Homo sapiens: one gene and its partner. The protein of the gene in region 2 binds, or shares a complex with, the protein of the main gene of each other region. Each region holds a gene or a part of one and is shown on either strand. Other genes may lie near its edges. A codon is read from its position in the direction of its gene.

Region 1 (7,178 bases), on a different chromosome or scaffold from region 2:
CAGCCCGCAGACTGGACCCTTCCAGGTGATGTTGGAACAATCCGGGGCGCAGACGCAGCGGGGTTTGTTCTTCTTGTTCATTCGGCATTTTTTCCCAGGTCCACAGTCCACGTTCTCACACGTTTCTGTGAGTTAGAAACAGGCATGGATTAAAACCAGAGCCAGGCAGTCTGCAGGTCAGCCAGGAGGGCTTCGGGTGCCTTGCGCAATCATGCAGCCCTGAGTTTGCGCTGGAGGGGCCCCAGGCTCTCTCCTGGAATATTGGGAGTTGGTGAAAGAGTGTGGACCTTGGGCTGTGCCCCACACCCAGATCTCTCTCATTAAGGAGCACAGGTTGGTGGGTTTCACCACCACACTTGGCTAAGAAGTCTGGCGTGTATTCCCTACAGCCTGTAACAGGCAGAATTAGAGTCTGCACGGCTTACCAGGGCAAGGGACAGGAAGGGGAAGCCCAGGAACAAAGCTCTCCTACTCCCAAACCCCAGTCAGGTAGTGGGGAAGCTAAGGGTAAGACGCCCTCTACTGAGGGCCTGCAAGTTGGGAAGAAGGAGTCCTACCTTTACAGGGGATGCAGTTGGGGGCGCCCCCGTTGAAAATCATCCACTTGAAGAGTGTGTTGTCATTCACGTCCTCCTCGGTCCACGAGGTGCTCAGCCGGCCGGTGCTGCAGCACTCCTCCTTGCTCAGTTCGGTCTTGTACAGGACCTGGCAGCGGCCGTTCTTCGCTTGACGGAGCCAGCAGTTCCCAGCTGTGAAGAGACAAGGGTGGGGAGGTGGGTGAGTGAGCAGTGAGCGGTGGCAGGGCAGGGAGAGCGAGGTGGCTAGCGAAGGAGACCCGGCGGGGATGGGGAGGGGGTGAGCGTGGAGGAGGGGAAGTGAGAGAGACGCGGGAGAAAAGTAGGAAATAAATCGAAAGGGGTGGAGGGGTGGAAAAAGAAGGCAGTGGAGGGGGAAGCCCTGATCACAGAGATGGGAGGTGGGCGAGAGGGAGGGAGGGAGAGAGGGAGAAGACAGGGCGCCCCAGCCATATCAATGTCAGTTACCAGTGACCCAGACACAACACGTGCAGCTTGCATTGACTTTTACTAGACTGTTTACTTTTATTCGTCCCATTTCATAACCTGCAGAGACTCGAAGAGCAGATTAAAGAACCTGACAAAAACAGGATGCGACGGATGTTTTTACATGCTGGTTTCATGTAGGCGGGTACAGGAATTATTTGTGACAGGGGTTAAGAAAGTAAGAGAACGAGAGAGAGGAGAGAGGAGAGATGGAGGGGAGAGAGAGGGAGAAGGAAAGAGAAAGAAAGAAAGAAAAGAAAGAAGAGAAAGAAAGAAAAGAAAGAGAAAGAAAGAAAAAAAGGAAGAAAGAAAGAGAGAGAGGAAGAAAGAAAAGAAAGAGAGAGAGAGAGAAACAGATCAAGCAAAAGGCACTTCTGAAAAATGAAAGCAAAAAAGCAACCCGGCCCAGCCCGGAGCTACCCCGCGCGGCCTCCAGGCGCAGCCAGCCCGACGGGCCCGTTTTGCAATCCGCCAGACCGGAGCACGCCCGCGGCCACCGCGATCTTTCGAAATCTCCGAGGGCTGCTTTCCTCCGCGCCCACGTCCGGGCACCAGGCAGAGCCTCTCCTCTAAAGGCGGGCAACCCAGCGCAGTGCCATGCAGACGGCGAGGGGCAGTGCCCAGGAGGGCAGTTTACAACATACTTAAAATGTTAACGCTGAAGCAGGGAAAGTAATGCCTTAAGGTGGGGGGAGGGGGGAGTCTTCCTACCATTTCACGGTTATAAGTACCTATCTCATACCTAGCAAGAAATATTTGCAAGTGATTTCTCCCTCTTCCCCCTTTTTAATGTTCGGATTTGGGTCGAGAAGACTTCTCATGAATCACCAATATGACTTTAACAATCATTGGATCGCAAGCTGCTATTATTATTTTAAACATTCTGCCCAAAGACTAATTGAAATAAACAAATCTATTTTTAAAAGGCAAGCTTCAGAAATTTGCTCTTAACCCATTTCAGAATTTAAGTCAGTTATGGGCTGCTCACTGTTTTACAGAAAGCTAAGGGTCAGAAAGAAGAATGAGGCAGAGGGGAAAAAAACTGTAAAGTGCTCAAAGCACTTTGGGGTAATAATTTGGCTTTTTTTTTTTTTTTTTTTTTTTTGCGAGAATGGGGGATGGGGTTGGAAGAAGCATCCACTAGGCAGAAAGCTACTTCCCTTGAAAATCTTCAGCACCCACATTTCCAAGTTTGGGCAAAGTTTCTGAAACCACGTCCCCCAGCCACCAAATAAAATTCAGTATCTCTCCCCCAAACCCCCAGGTTTTCTTTTCTTTCTTTCCTTTTTTTTTTTTAAGTATCCAAAAGATGTGGGAGGGAGAGAGATGAGACTGCAAATGGGTCGACTGAAATCTCCAGGCTACTACTGATACTTGTTCCCTTCTTCAGAGCCAAACAGAGGAGATCACATCTAAAGTTATCATGGCCAGAACTTGGAGCATTTAACCCTAACTACTAAGACCCCAGCTCGCTCCCTTTCCTTTTTCAAGATAACCGAGCTCCAAACTCAGTTCCCAGTCCTAAAGTGTCATTGCCTACAATTTTCCCACTCCTCTCCATCCCGGAGTCCCCAAGTTGGTTCAACATCTTCCGAGAGCAGCGTTGCTCAGAACAGACCAAGTGGAGACCACAGAAAAGTCGACCCCCCTGTCCTCAGCCAAGCCTCCCCAGCGCATCCCCACTCGCTTACCCTGGGCACTGCGGTCCTCCATGAACTGGCAGAGCAGCAGCAGCAGGAGGCAAAGCCCACCCGGCTGGTGCCTCGCGCGGACCATCCTGGGGGCAGGCGCGGGGCGAGGAGCGCAGCGGCGCGGGGAGCCGGCGCGGCGGCGGGTGGCTCGGGCGAGCGGCGCGCGTCGCAGAGGCCAGCGGCGGAGGGCGCAGCGATCCCGGCGCAGCCCCGCGCTCGCCGCCGGCCGCCCGCGCGATTCAATGGACGTCAGAAGCCGGGCGCAGCCGCGCTTTAAATCTAGACGGGGGTCTCCGCGGTTTGCGGTGGGCGGTCTCCCAGTGTGTGGGGCTGTGGGAGGGCGGCCGCGAGCGAGGGTGTGCGCGGCTCCTTGGGGGTGGGGAGCTTTCAAAAGTTCAGTGTGAATCAGGTGACATTTCCCACCTTCTGGAAACCCTTCCCAATTATCTTTCGGAGGTGCCCGAAATCAAAACGGCTGGAAGGGAATCGTCGAGTTCTTATTTGCGTAGGAGCGAGAGGGAGGGGGAAGGCGACCGGGGCGGGGGTTGGGGGCTACGCGTCGGGGGTGGGGAGTGGGGAAGAACACCCACTTCAAGTCCTGCTCGCCGCCGCTCGCCGGCAGCGCCGGCGCGCCCGGGGTGGCGGGTGTGTGTGTGAGTGTGTGTGTGAGTGTGTGTGCGCGCGCGCGCGAGTGTGAGAGGGAGGGCGCGGTGGGGGCGCTGGAGGCGGTGGCGGGGGGAACCCGGGAGTTTGTCTCCGTGCTGCCTCTCCTCCGCTCCAAAGAGACTTTTGCAAACGGCCGAAGAGCCCCGGGCTGCCCAAATATCCCGCCCCGGGTCGGGTCGGAGCGCGCCGGCCTCGCGGCGGTTCCGGGCACCCGCAGCCTGGGCGCGGGACCCGCGAGGTTTTGTGTCTGGGTCTGTGAGTGCCTGACTTTGCAGCCACCCCCAGCCCAGAGGTGTTGCTAGGAACCCCGGCCCCGGCACCTTCCACCCTGGCAGAGCGCTACCGAGACGCGGCCCTTCGTCTGGACTAGTCGGAAGCAAACAAAAATGTTTAACACCTCAGGCCCGGTCTCCCCGCGGCACAGCCTCGCCCTCTCCCTTTCTTTTCTCCCCTTTCACTTCGCGGCGTCTGGAGTCGGAGCCCGGAGCGGGGGCGCCGACGTAGGCGGTCTGGCCCCCCCTTCCTCTCCCGCCTGGAGACTCCCCAGTTTCTGTCCTGTGTGCCTCTGTCTGTCTCTCAGTCTCCTCGGCTCCAATCTCTCTCTCTTTCTGTCTCGTCTTCTCTCTTTTCGCGGAATAAAAAAGATTGCAACATCCATAATGAACTTCTGTAGCCTCAGTTTATTAAGTACAGTGCCTGGCATTCTTCGCTGAAAGTTGGCGGGTCTCTCATTTATAACATTTTTGGCACCGCTGAATGAAACTGAGGAGGCGATATTTCCTTTTATATAAAACGATTACTTCACGGAAAATGCTATATTGTTTATTCCAAAGCTGCCTTTTAAATTTGTTCTTTTCGCATCTGAAGCCCGAAGGACAACAGATAGCGAAGTATGCAGACAAAATTCTTGGACATTCGCAGGTCACTGGGATTTGTTCTACGAATTTCAAATCTGCCCTTCTTCCCCCCCTGCAACTGCCCTCCCCCCGCCAGACCCTCCCCCAGTCCTCCTCTAGCCCTCCCACCCCCCATCTTCCGTCAACCTTCCCCCCTCCACAACTGCAAATAACTCAGTGATAACAGATTTTTTTCCACCAACTGCAGGAGATAGTGCTAATCTTTTAATAAAAGATCCCATTACAATGGGATCTGTCTGGACAGACTATAATAGATCCCGAAATACAGCCGTGCTAATATTAGAAGACAGTTGTTTGGGTGCCTCTCAGACGGGCCCAAGCCCCCCTTTGAAAGTGGGCATGAATCACAAAGCCCCGCGGCCGCCGCACCTGCACCGCGCGCATTCGGTGCAGCAGGCTGGTAAAAGCGGGTGACCTCGCCGCCGCTTTTCGCTTTATAATTACCGTCATGAGGACGGGAGGGGAGGGGCTCGGGCGGCCCGGGGGAGACTGGATTTTGCTCACTTCAGACGGCTGTGGGGGCTCCACATCCTTCTTAATCTTTCCAGAATCATTCTGTCTGTTTCTGTCTCGCTGTCTCTCTCCCCTTCTCCCTTTCCCTCCAGTCCTCCAACTCATTCCCTCTGCTCTCTTTCCCCTACTCCTTCCCCTCTTCTCTCCTTCCCTCCCTCTACCCAGACTCTACCCGTACTCTCCCTCCCTTTTCTCCCTCTCTTTCTTTTCCAGTCTCCTTTTCTCTCTTCCCTCCAACTCATTAATGTAGAGTTGTTTAGTGCCCTCTAATGGCAGACGACATTAACAATTAATAGCAAACTGTCCCCTTTGCAGGAGCCGCCACTCAATGGCAGAGTTCCAAAGCTGAATTTATTTCTTCTTTATTCAGAGAAATGGTATAGTCCTTATACAATGATGTGCTGGAGGGAAAGTTTGTTTTCTCTGCTTAAAGGTTCCCCCACCCCTGCCCAGGGATAAGTTAAAGGAAAGAGAAGCTAACAAGTATTGTTACTTGACTTTTCCCCCTACCCTGTCTTTTAATGGCAGCAAGAGACACAGCTTCTTTTTAAGGTAGAGGTATCAAACCGTATATCCAAGGTTGAAAAATAAACATTCCAAATGCATAAAAGATCTCAGATGGTAAGTAACTGGATCTTACAGCAATGCTATCAATGATCATACATAATTACATGATTTTATATTTGTCTCCAGTTTAAATATATTTATTGGTCCTGAATTGGCCAGTAGCCTCTGGAAACTGGGGTCTTTTTCTTAGACTTTCCACCCTAGGACTATACAAAATATTTAAATTTTACTTATATGCCTAGTTGTATATGAAGTCATCTTGCCTGGAGAAATATAGAATCACGTTTTAATCCATATTTATTTTCTCAATATCTTTGGGAAGATTGTTTTAAAGTTCATAATCTCATCATATTTTATAACCGTATAGCAAGGAGAATAGTGATATAACTTGTATGTTCTTATTAGATTTTAATTTTGTTCATTCCTATATGTACATATAACATGTTGATGTAAAAGGGTCATACAAGTATACACAAAGATTACCTTTTTGGGGGAAGGTCTGTGTAGCTAAATGAAGATTAGAATAGAAGCAATTTGGAGGGGCTAGTCAAAAAATTTTCCATGTTTGAGCAAAACTATTTAGTTTGTCCAGATACTTATTTTAGTTTATGTATATAGAAACAACTGATGTCACAAAAACTTTCTAAATTAATTTAAGTTGTATCCTCACAATTCCAGTATGATTGGGTAAAAGTAAAAATTTCATTTCTATTTCATTTTTTGTCTATGTAATGCCAAATGCTCAGACCAGTCATTTGACTAAATTGACTGCCTTGACTAGTTGTTTTGGCATCATGTAATTGTCTTGGCTAAGCCAAAGCAGACACAGTAGCTCTCATTGTAAAAAATGGCACCACAAATAGGAGTCCCTCAGTACCAGAGGGTGACCCAACACAGGATTACTTCTCGTCCCAGAGAAGGTGACCCTGCAGGTCAGGGTTGAGGTCACTGGCAAACACACTGTGGAAAACATAAGTGCTGTGTTGCTTTTGCCCTTTTGAATAAGCAGCTTGGTGTTTGTTTAGTGATACAAGCTCATCCTGTTTTTCAGCTGCACCTTGGATAGTATTGATCTGTTTGGGAGAATGTCTGCTCCAAATCAGCACAGATCAGTCACCATGACTCTTGCCATCTAGGGTTATTTTCAGATCATAACTGAGGAAATGAGACACAGGTCAATACTGGTTCCTTATAGGCTTTCTGTGGGCATCAGCAAGAGATCCATCCCATTTCTGTGGTATGAAATGGTACCACACCTGTTCAGTGACATCACAGAAAAACAGCTGCTATTTCTTTTACTGTTATATCGCCTGTAAATGTTAAATATTGGGTTTGTAGATATCTAAATGTCAAGGGGACATTTTAAAATAAAAATGTCGCCTTTCATTTTTGTTGTATGCCTCCAAGTTTGACTTCTTATTTTTCCTTTCTGCTCTGCCAAATAAAAATGTAAATTATGAGAAACACAATAGGACCACTTTGTAGCTGAATTTCTGGGCAGCACACAAAAAGACTACTGTTTTCTGATTGGTCTTTTGTCAGCTTCAAAAGCTGTCTTCCTTCTGAAGTTTATAAATTTAAAATATTAGAGTTTAGCAAATGATTCAATCTAACTCCCTAGATAGCTATTTAAACTCATATGACATTGTTATTTGAGACCAGAACTGACCTGGTTAAATTTCAGTACCTAAAAAGAGAATATGGAGGGAGTGGGGTGAGGTTATGTAGAGACTATTTGAAAGTCATGAACTGAGTAGCTTTTT
Region 2 (6,887 bases):
ATCTGTGTTGAATTGATCGGGCTGGTGGCAGGCAGCAGGTCAGGTTTAGTAGGCGGCGCTGGTGGGAGAGAGAGGTCACTGCACTATTTTCAGCAAATGCCCAACCCCCTCCCTGCACACCACCTCCCCTTCCCCCCACCCTAACCCCCCCAAACACACACACTCCCAACCATGGCTGGAAGGCCTAAGGGCAGGAGGTTGGGCTGAGAGGGCAGGGGCCTCTTGGTGTGGGGAGGAGAGAGAAACTCGGGCTGGGCTTGGCTCCCAGAAGGGCAGGGGGCTGGGTTCCCAGGATGAAGGCTTGGTGGGAGAGCCTGAGAGGGTAGAGGGAACTAGGGCAGGCAGAGCAGCCTAGGAGAGGTGGGGGCTGGGGTCCAGGGTTGAGGGCTGGGGGAGGGGAGGGAGGGGGAGGGGAACGGAGGCCATCTCTGCTGACAAACACCTCCCCCGATTAGCAGAGCACAAGTCTCTTATTAAAGCGGGTCCCTGGGGATTAGACTATAAAAGTCTCTTTTTCCTTTTCCCCTCTCTCCCTCCCCTCCCCTCCACTCCCCCTCCCTCTCTTAAGAGCTCAGCTAGGCTCTTAAAGGGGACGTACAATACCTGGCCGGAGACCCAGTTCCCTACTTGTACAAGTCCTGGGGTGGCACGGGACTGTAAGTTTTGATGGGATCCTACCAGCTGGTGTCCCCTTCCCACCGACCCAGGCCTCACCTGCACAGCCCAACTCATGAAGGCAGGGTCCCTTCACTTCGTGTATCCCCATTACCAGAGCTAACTCTGGTGGGCTCAGGCCTGTTGGTTAAGGGATGCTAAGGATATTTAGGGGCAAGGAGAAGTCCACAGCCCCATCACCCATCCTGGAAATCTTCACACACACTACACCACAGAGACTAGAGTATCTTTTCCCTCTGTAACCTTCATCTTCCAGCAAACTCTTGATCTGAATTCCTCTATAACTCTGTTTCCTAGAAACCCCACCCCCTACCCCTGCCCTCAGTCGATCTGAGACTGACCCTAGCTTCCATAAGCAGAAGGCTTAAGAATAGAAGGGAAACTGAGGAACCCCAGACCGGATCCCCATACCTCCCACCCCCACAGCCAGTTTCCTGGTTCTTTGAGTTTAACAGCCCTGACCAAGTCTTGTGGAATTGAGGTCTGCAGAAATACCAGGGGCAGTGTGAGGCACTCAGCCTCCCAGATGCACACCTGGGTTCCTGTGCCTCTCCCATGGGGGTGGGCCACTGGGACTCCCCTCAGCCCCCAGCTTTTTATGACCCATCTGCCAATAAACCAGTCTCCCCCGTCTTCTGTTCACAGCCATAAAACCAAACTCTGTGTGTGTTGCAGGGGGCTGTGGGAAGGGGGGAACCTTGCCAAACCACTAGGGAATAAGAGAGGCCTGGTTCCCTGTAGTTGGGGAGGGGGGGAGACCTCAGTGGGGGAGGAGAAGGAGTCACCTGACCCTAAGGAGAGCTGGAAAAGGGGGGGTGTAGTATTCGCCTGGATTTTCCAGGCCATAAAATTTCAAAGCAGCTCATGTCTATTATATGTTCATCTTCCGTTTGGTCAGGGGCTCGGATGCCTGGGTTCCTGCTCCCCCATCTACTACTTTCTCTTTTTTCCTAGGTCTTCGTCTCTCTCAAGTCCACCTGCGGTAGGGGTGGGCGAATAAGGGATGGAACACTAAGGTTTGAGTAGCCAATGAGTGTCCTTAGCCCCCAGCGCAATGGAGTTGAGCTCTCCGAGCTCGGTCAGTATCAAGAAGGCACAGCTTTTCCGACCCCTTGGGATACCCGGTCTGAGACAGGGGTCAGGATGGAAAGGGTGCCAGCTGGGCTGCCAGGAGGTGTACAGGGCTCTGGGACCCTATTCTTGGGAGAAAGCACACAGTTCTCTGCAACCCGTTGGGCACGTTGCGAACGGAGCACGGAGTGGGGAGTTACCGCCAGGGCCACTGGGAAGCAGAGAGCACTGCAGTCCAGCTGGGGCTGCGGGGGTCCTGCAGCCTCCCGATTCTGTTCTCCAGCCTCCCCACCACGGCTTTTCAGGACAGAGTCACTGCCCAGCCCCAGCTTCCCCGGACTCCAACAAGGATCTTTTTAGCATACTGGGGGTGGAAGGCACTATCTCGAAACCCGCCCCATTTCCCCCGCCCCAACCTCCGGGAACTAGGCGTGCATACAACTTTGCAGCCCATCTCCACCGCTCGGAAAACTTCTATGAAGTAGCCCCCGCTCCCTAATTCGTCAAGTTTTCGCAGAAAAAGCTTCCGGGCCGGGGCAGCAGGGAGCGCCCCGCTTGGAGCAGAAGGCGCCCTTCGCGGGGCCAGAGCCAGCACCCCACTGCTCGCGCCCCGCAGCCCACTTACTCTCCTGGGCCATGCTAATGACGGTCTCGGTGGTGGCGTGGTACTCGTCCTCCTCCAGGAAGTCCTCGGGCTGCAGCGCGTCGCCCTGGAAGTCGTGTAGGTCCAGGATCTGCTGCAGCGGCGGCGCCTTGGGCAGCAGCTGCTTCACCACCTCGCGGCTGATGTTGGGCGCCTCCTTGAGCCGCAGTTTGCTCAAGATCTGCGACTTGATGCTCTCTAGGCGCAGCTCGCGGCTGTGCTGCCGCCAAACGCACACGGGGCAGCCGTCCGGCTCGGGCGCCACGGACGGGGCTGGCCGGCTGGAGCGCTCCCCCCCGACCCCCGCCGCTGCCGCCGCCGCCGCCGCCGCCGCCGCCGCCGCGGGGCCCTCGGCCGCCTCCCCCCGGGGCCGCAGCTCCAGGGCGAGGAGCAGGAAGCCCAGCAGCAGCGGGGCCGCGAGCACCATGCTGGAGGGGAGGGGAGGGAGGACTGGGGGGCGGGGACGCCGGAGTCCCGCGGGGAGGGGGCGGAGGGAGGAGGGAGGGAGGAGGAGGGGGTCCGGGCGGCGCGGGATTGGGGGCTGCCCGGCCGAGGGGGGACCCGGGGGGCCGGGGGCGGCGGGCGCGCGGGCGGGGCGGGCGGGCGGCCGGGGCGGGCGGCTGGGGGGGCCCGAGCCCGGGCCAGGCCCTTTATAGCCCCGGCCCCCGTGTCGTCAGCGGCCGCGATTGGCTGCGGAGCCAACAAAAGAGGCAGCGCTGTCATCCGAGGCGAGAGAGGGAGCCGGAGAGAGCCGAGGAATAGAGAGAGGGAGGGAATGAGGGAGCAAGGGCCAGAGAGAGATGAAGAGACAGAGATATGAGGGGGCGGGGGGGCGGATATAGAGGGAAAGTCAGAGCCAGAGAGACCAAGGAGAATCAGAGAGATAAGGGGGAAGAGACAGAGATAGGAAAAGGAGGAGGAGAGAGGGAGAGACAAAGGAGGAAAAGAAGAGTCAGGGGGAAGACGCAGAGGTGAGAGACTTAGCTAGAGAGGGAAATTGTGTGTCTGTGGGAGACACAGAACCAAGAAGGAGGAAGACTGGGACAACTAGTGGGAGAGTTAGAGTGGAGACAAAAATGGGGAGAAGAGGGGTACCACTAGATAGGGGGAGACAGAGGTCTACAGAGCCAGACCAGAAGAGATCGGGGGTCATGGAGATGGGAACAGCGGCAGAGGAACAGAGGACAGAAGAGTGCCCTGGGAAAGGGGTGGGGGGGGGGGTGGGGGGGAGAGAAATCAGGATGGGGGAGGAGAGAGAGGGGCACAGACAGGGAGACAACAAGGGAGCCCCTGAGGAGGCAGGTGCAGGGGATTGGGGGTGGGGGAGAGGAAAGGCAGAAACTCCTGAGAGAAGGAGCCACAAGAGTCAGCCTTGGTGGGAGCACAGAGAGCCCAGGGGACAGAGGTGGAGAACTTGAGACCAGAGGAGCTCTAGCCACCAGAGGTAGCCCAAAGAAGATGCTCAAGGAAGCCATGGAAGGAAGCACCAGGCTAGGCTCATCAGAGGGATTAAGGGGACTAGGAGAGGAAGAGGTCAGGGACAACCTAAGAAGGTGGAGAGGTGATGGGAAGAACTGAAACAGAGGGAAGACATAGAGCTGGGAAGACTGTGAGCTTGAAACTGGGGCTTAACAGGGCTAATGTAGTCAGCCGGCTGGAAAAGGCAGGAGCTAGAGGCCACTGGGGGAAGGGTGAGAGGAGATGGCTGGAGGCTGTTATACTTGGGGAGAAATCTAGATCTCTGGATTTCTAGCTATATCTTTGGATCTGCAGGGTCTTAGAAGTCTGAGAAGGGGCTGGAGGTTGCAAGGGTGAGCATGGGAAAGAAGTCTGCGCTCAGATGCACGAGATGAAATACAGATGTGGGACCAGCCCTAGTCTTCAGGTGTGATCCTGGGCAGTCAGAGAGCAGAGTAAAACAGTACTAAGGTGAAAAAATGTTTTGAATGTGCTTAACTTCTGACTTCAGGTTTTCCAGGCTTATTTCTGGATCTGAAAGCCCTGGAGCAATAGTCAAATGGAAAATGTTTGTGCCAGGCCAGGCGCGGTGGCTCACGCCTGTAATCCCAGCACTTTGGGAGGCCGAGGTGGGCGGATCACGAGGTCAGGAGATCGAGACCATCCTGGCTAACACGGTGAAACCCTGTCTCTACTAAAAATACAAAAAATTAGCCGGGCGTGGTGGCGGGTGCCTGTAGTCCTAGCTGCTGGGGAGGCTGAGGCAGGAGAATGGCGTGAACCTGGGAGGCGGAGCTTGCAGTGAGCCGAGATCGCGCCATTGCACCCCAGCCTGGGCGACAGAGTGAGACTCCGTCTCAAAAAAAAAAAAAAAAGAAAAGAAAAGAAAATGTTTGAAGGAATCAGGTCTTGCTAATTTCCTGGCATTCACAATGTTTATTTAATAAATGGATGAACTTTATTATTGGGCTTCTCAGAATAGAGGGGCATTGGTTTCCTCTCTGGAATTAAAGCCCAATAACATATCTTAAAGTTGGCTTGGCATAGGCATCAGGAGCACCAGACATAAGGATAGAGTTGGGTTGAGGAACTGGAGTAAAATAAGGGAAGAAACTGGGGATCCAGGTATGAGGGGAGGAGGTTGGGTAGGGGTTAGGAGGACCAAGCTGGGGAGCTTTGAAGAGACAATCCATTTCCATGGGTAACAGAAACTGAAAACAAAACAGACTGGAACAAAAACTTAGCTTGTTCCCTCCCTTGCTTTCAACCAAGACATGGGCATTTCAGCATTTCATCAAGTTTCTTAATCTATAATATGGGGCCACAATTCCTACCCTTAACTGGTTGTGGGGATTACATATAAGCAATCAATAGTGGCCTTCATGGGCTTCTTCTCCTTCATGATTCTTCCTTTCCTTTCTGATTTTCCAGAGCAGCGATTGCCTTTAGCACATATTCTGGCATATCCTATTTTCTAAAATGTTTCTCTGTCATTTCTTCAGCAAAATTGGAAAGGCTGTGAGAGCAAAGTTGGTGTCACCTCCTTCTTCTCCCTTAGAGAAGGTAGTACAGGCTTCACTTCCTCACCAAACATGTATCTAGTGGCAGGTACAAAGATAAATGAGATGCAAAAGTAAGTAAGACTCAGCTCCTTTCCTCAGAGAACATATAAACTAGAAAAGACACTAGGTAGGCCGGGCGCGGTGGCTCACGCCTGTAATCCCAATACTTCGGGAGGCCACGGTGGGTGGATCACCTGAGGTCAGGAGTTCGAGACCAGCCTGGCCAACATGGTGAAACCCCGTCTCTACTGAAAATACAAAAATTAGCTGGGCATGGTGATATGCGCCTGTAGTCCCATCTACTCAGGAGGTTGAGATGGGAGAATCACTTGAACCTGGAAGGCGGAGGTTGCAGTGAGCCAAGATCATGCCACTGCACTCCAGCCTGGGCGACAGAGCAAGACTCTGTCAAACAAAAAAAAAAAAAAAAAAAAAAGAAGGAAGGAAGAAAGAAAAGAAAAGAAGAAAAGAAAAAGAAAAGAAAAGAAAAGAAAAGAAAAGAAAAGAAGACATTAAGTAAACAGGACCAGCCAGAACTCTAGGCCAGATGCCTCCTGCATATCTCAATCTGGATGTTTCATGGCACTTCAAATATCACAGGTTAGAGAACCCCTTCTTTCTCCCTAAAATGTGTCCCATCCTGCAGCTTTTCATTTTAGTGAATGACAATCATCCAGGCTAGAAATCTGAATGTCTTGTTTCACCCTTGTCCTCTTGACCATTTCTGAATCTTTGCACAGGTTGTTTCTTCTTCCTAGAACAATTCCCCCTACTACTTCCACTCTCTTCCACCCACCAATCTCTTGGCCAAGTTTACTCTTTCTTCAGGTCTCAGCATAGATCCCATCCAAGAATCCCTTCCTGACTTCGGGTCTAGAGTAGTTGCTTCTCCCAGATATATCTGCACCATTCTGTGAGGTATGGAGATAATCGCCTAGCTTCTAGACTAGAAGTAGGCTGGCTGGGTTCAAGTCCCAGCTCTCTCCCTTTTCTGGTTGTGTAAACTTGGACAAGTTATTAAACCTCTTTATACCTCAGATTCCTCACCTGTAAGATGGGAATAATTATATATATATATAGAGAGAGAGAGAGACGGAGTCTTGCTTTGTCGCCCAGGTTGAAGTACAGTGGCGAGATCTCGGCTCACTGCAACCTCCACTTCCCAGGTTCAAGCGATTCTCCTATCCTCAGCCGCCCGAATAGCTGGGATTACAGGCACGCGCCACCAAGCCTGGCTAATTTTTGTATTTTTAGTAGAGACAGGGTTTCACCATGTTGGCCAGGCTGGTCTTGAACTCCTGACCTCAAGTGATCCACCCGCCTTGCCTCCCGAATTGCTGGGATTACAGGCGTGAGCCACTGTACCTGGCCAAGGATAACAATATTGTACCTATTTCATAAGGTTATGAAGATTAAATGTCTGAAAAACTGTTCTAAATGCATTAGTTATTACTGTTACCCCAACTTACAACGCTCAC

The links. Proteins that work in one complex are often made in the same cells at the same time.
Region 1: the proteins of GDF11 (region 2) and FST are in contact, whole or in part, in a crystal structure (PDB 5JHW), measured with the Homo sapiens proteins. Residues at the interface, in NP_005802.1 of Homo sapiens: Asn299, Leu300, Gly301, Leu302, Glu310, Arg312, Asp328, Trp329, Ile331, Ala332, Lys334, Arg335, Tyr336, Lys337, Tyr347, Met348, Phe349, Met350, Pro354, His357, Gln361, Ile380, Asn381, Leu383, Phe385, Asp387, Lys388, Gln389, Gln390, Ile391; in NP_037541.1 of Homo sapiens: Leu34 (codon at 735), Arg35 (codon at 732), Gln43 (codon at 708), Val44 (codon at 705), Leu45 (codon at 702), Tyr46 (codon at 699), Lys47 (codon at 696), Thr48 (codon at 693), Arg60 (codon at 657), Ser62 (codon at 651), Asp72 (codon at 621), Asn73 (codon at 618), Leu75 (codon at 612), Phe76 (codon at 609), Met79 (codon at 600), Ile80 (codon at 597), Leu134 (codon at 3), Asp135, Arg149, Gln153, Pro154, Glu155, Val180, Val181, Asp182, Gln183, Tyr188, Val190, Thr191, Asn193.

What each region holds. Positions count from the first base shown.
Region 1 is NC_000005.10:53,476,451-53,483,628, reverse strand, and holds the start of FST (follistatin isoform FST344 precursor), read right to left. Parts: upstream 3,001-7,178; 5' UTR 2,838-3,000; coding exon 2,753-2,837; intron 1,298-2,752; exon of another isoform or gene 1,114-1,297; coding exon of another isoform or gene 1,044-1,113; intron 750-1,043; coding exon 558-749; intron 126-557; coding exon 1-125. UniProt on the Homo sapiens protein: Multifunctional regulatory protein whose primary function is to antagonize members of the transforming growth factor beta (TGF-beta) superfamily including activin, myostatin, GDF11 or bone morphogenetic proteins (BMPs).
Region 2 is NC_000012.12:55,739,246-55,746,132, reverse strand, and holds the start of GDF11 (growth/differentiation factor 11 preproprotein), read right to left. Parts: upstream 3,012-6,887; 5' UTR 2,817-3,011; coding exon 2,372-2,816; intron 1-2,371. UniProt on the Homo sapiens protein: Secreted signal that acts globally to regulate anterior/posterior axial patterning during development. May play critical roles in patterning both mesodermal and neural tissues. It is required for proper vertebral patterning and orofacial development.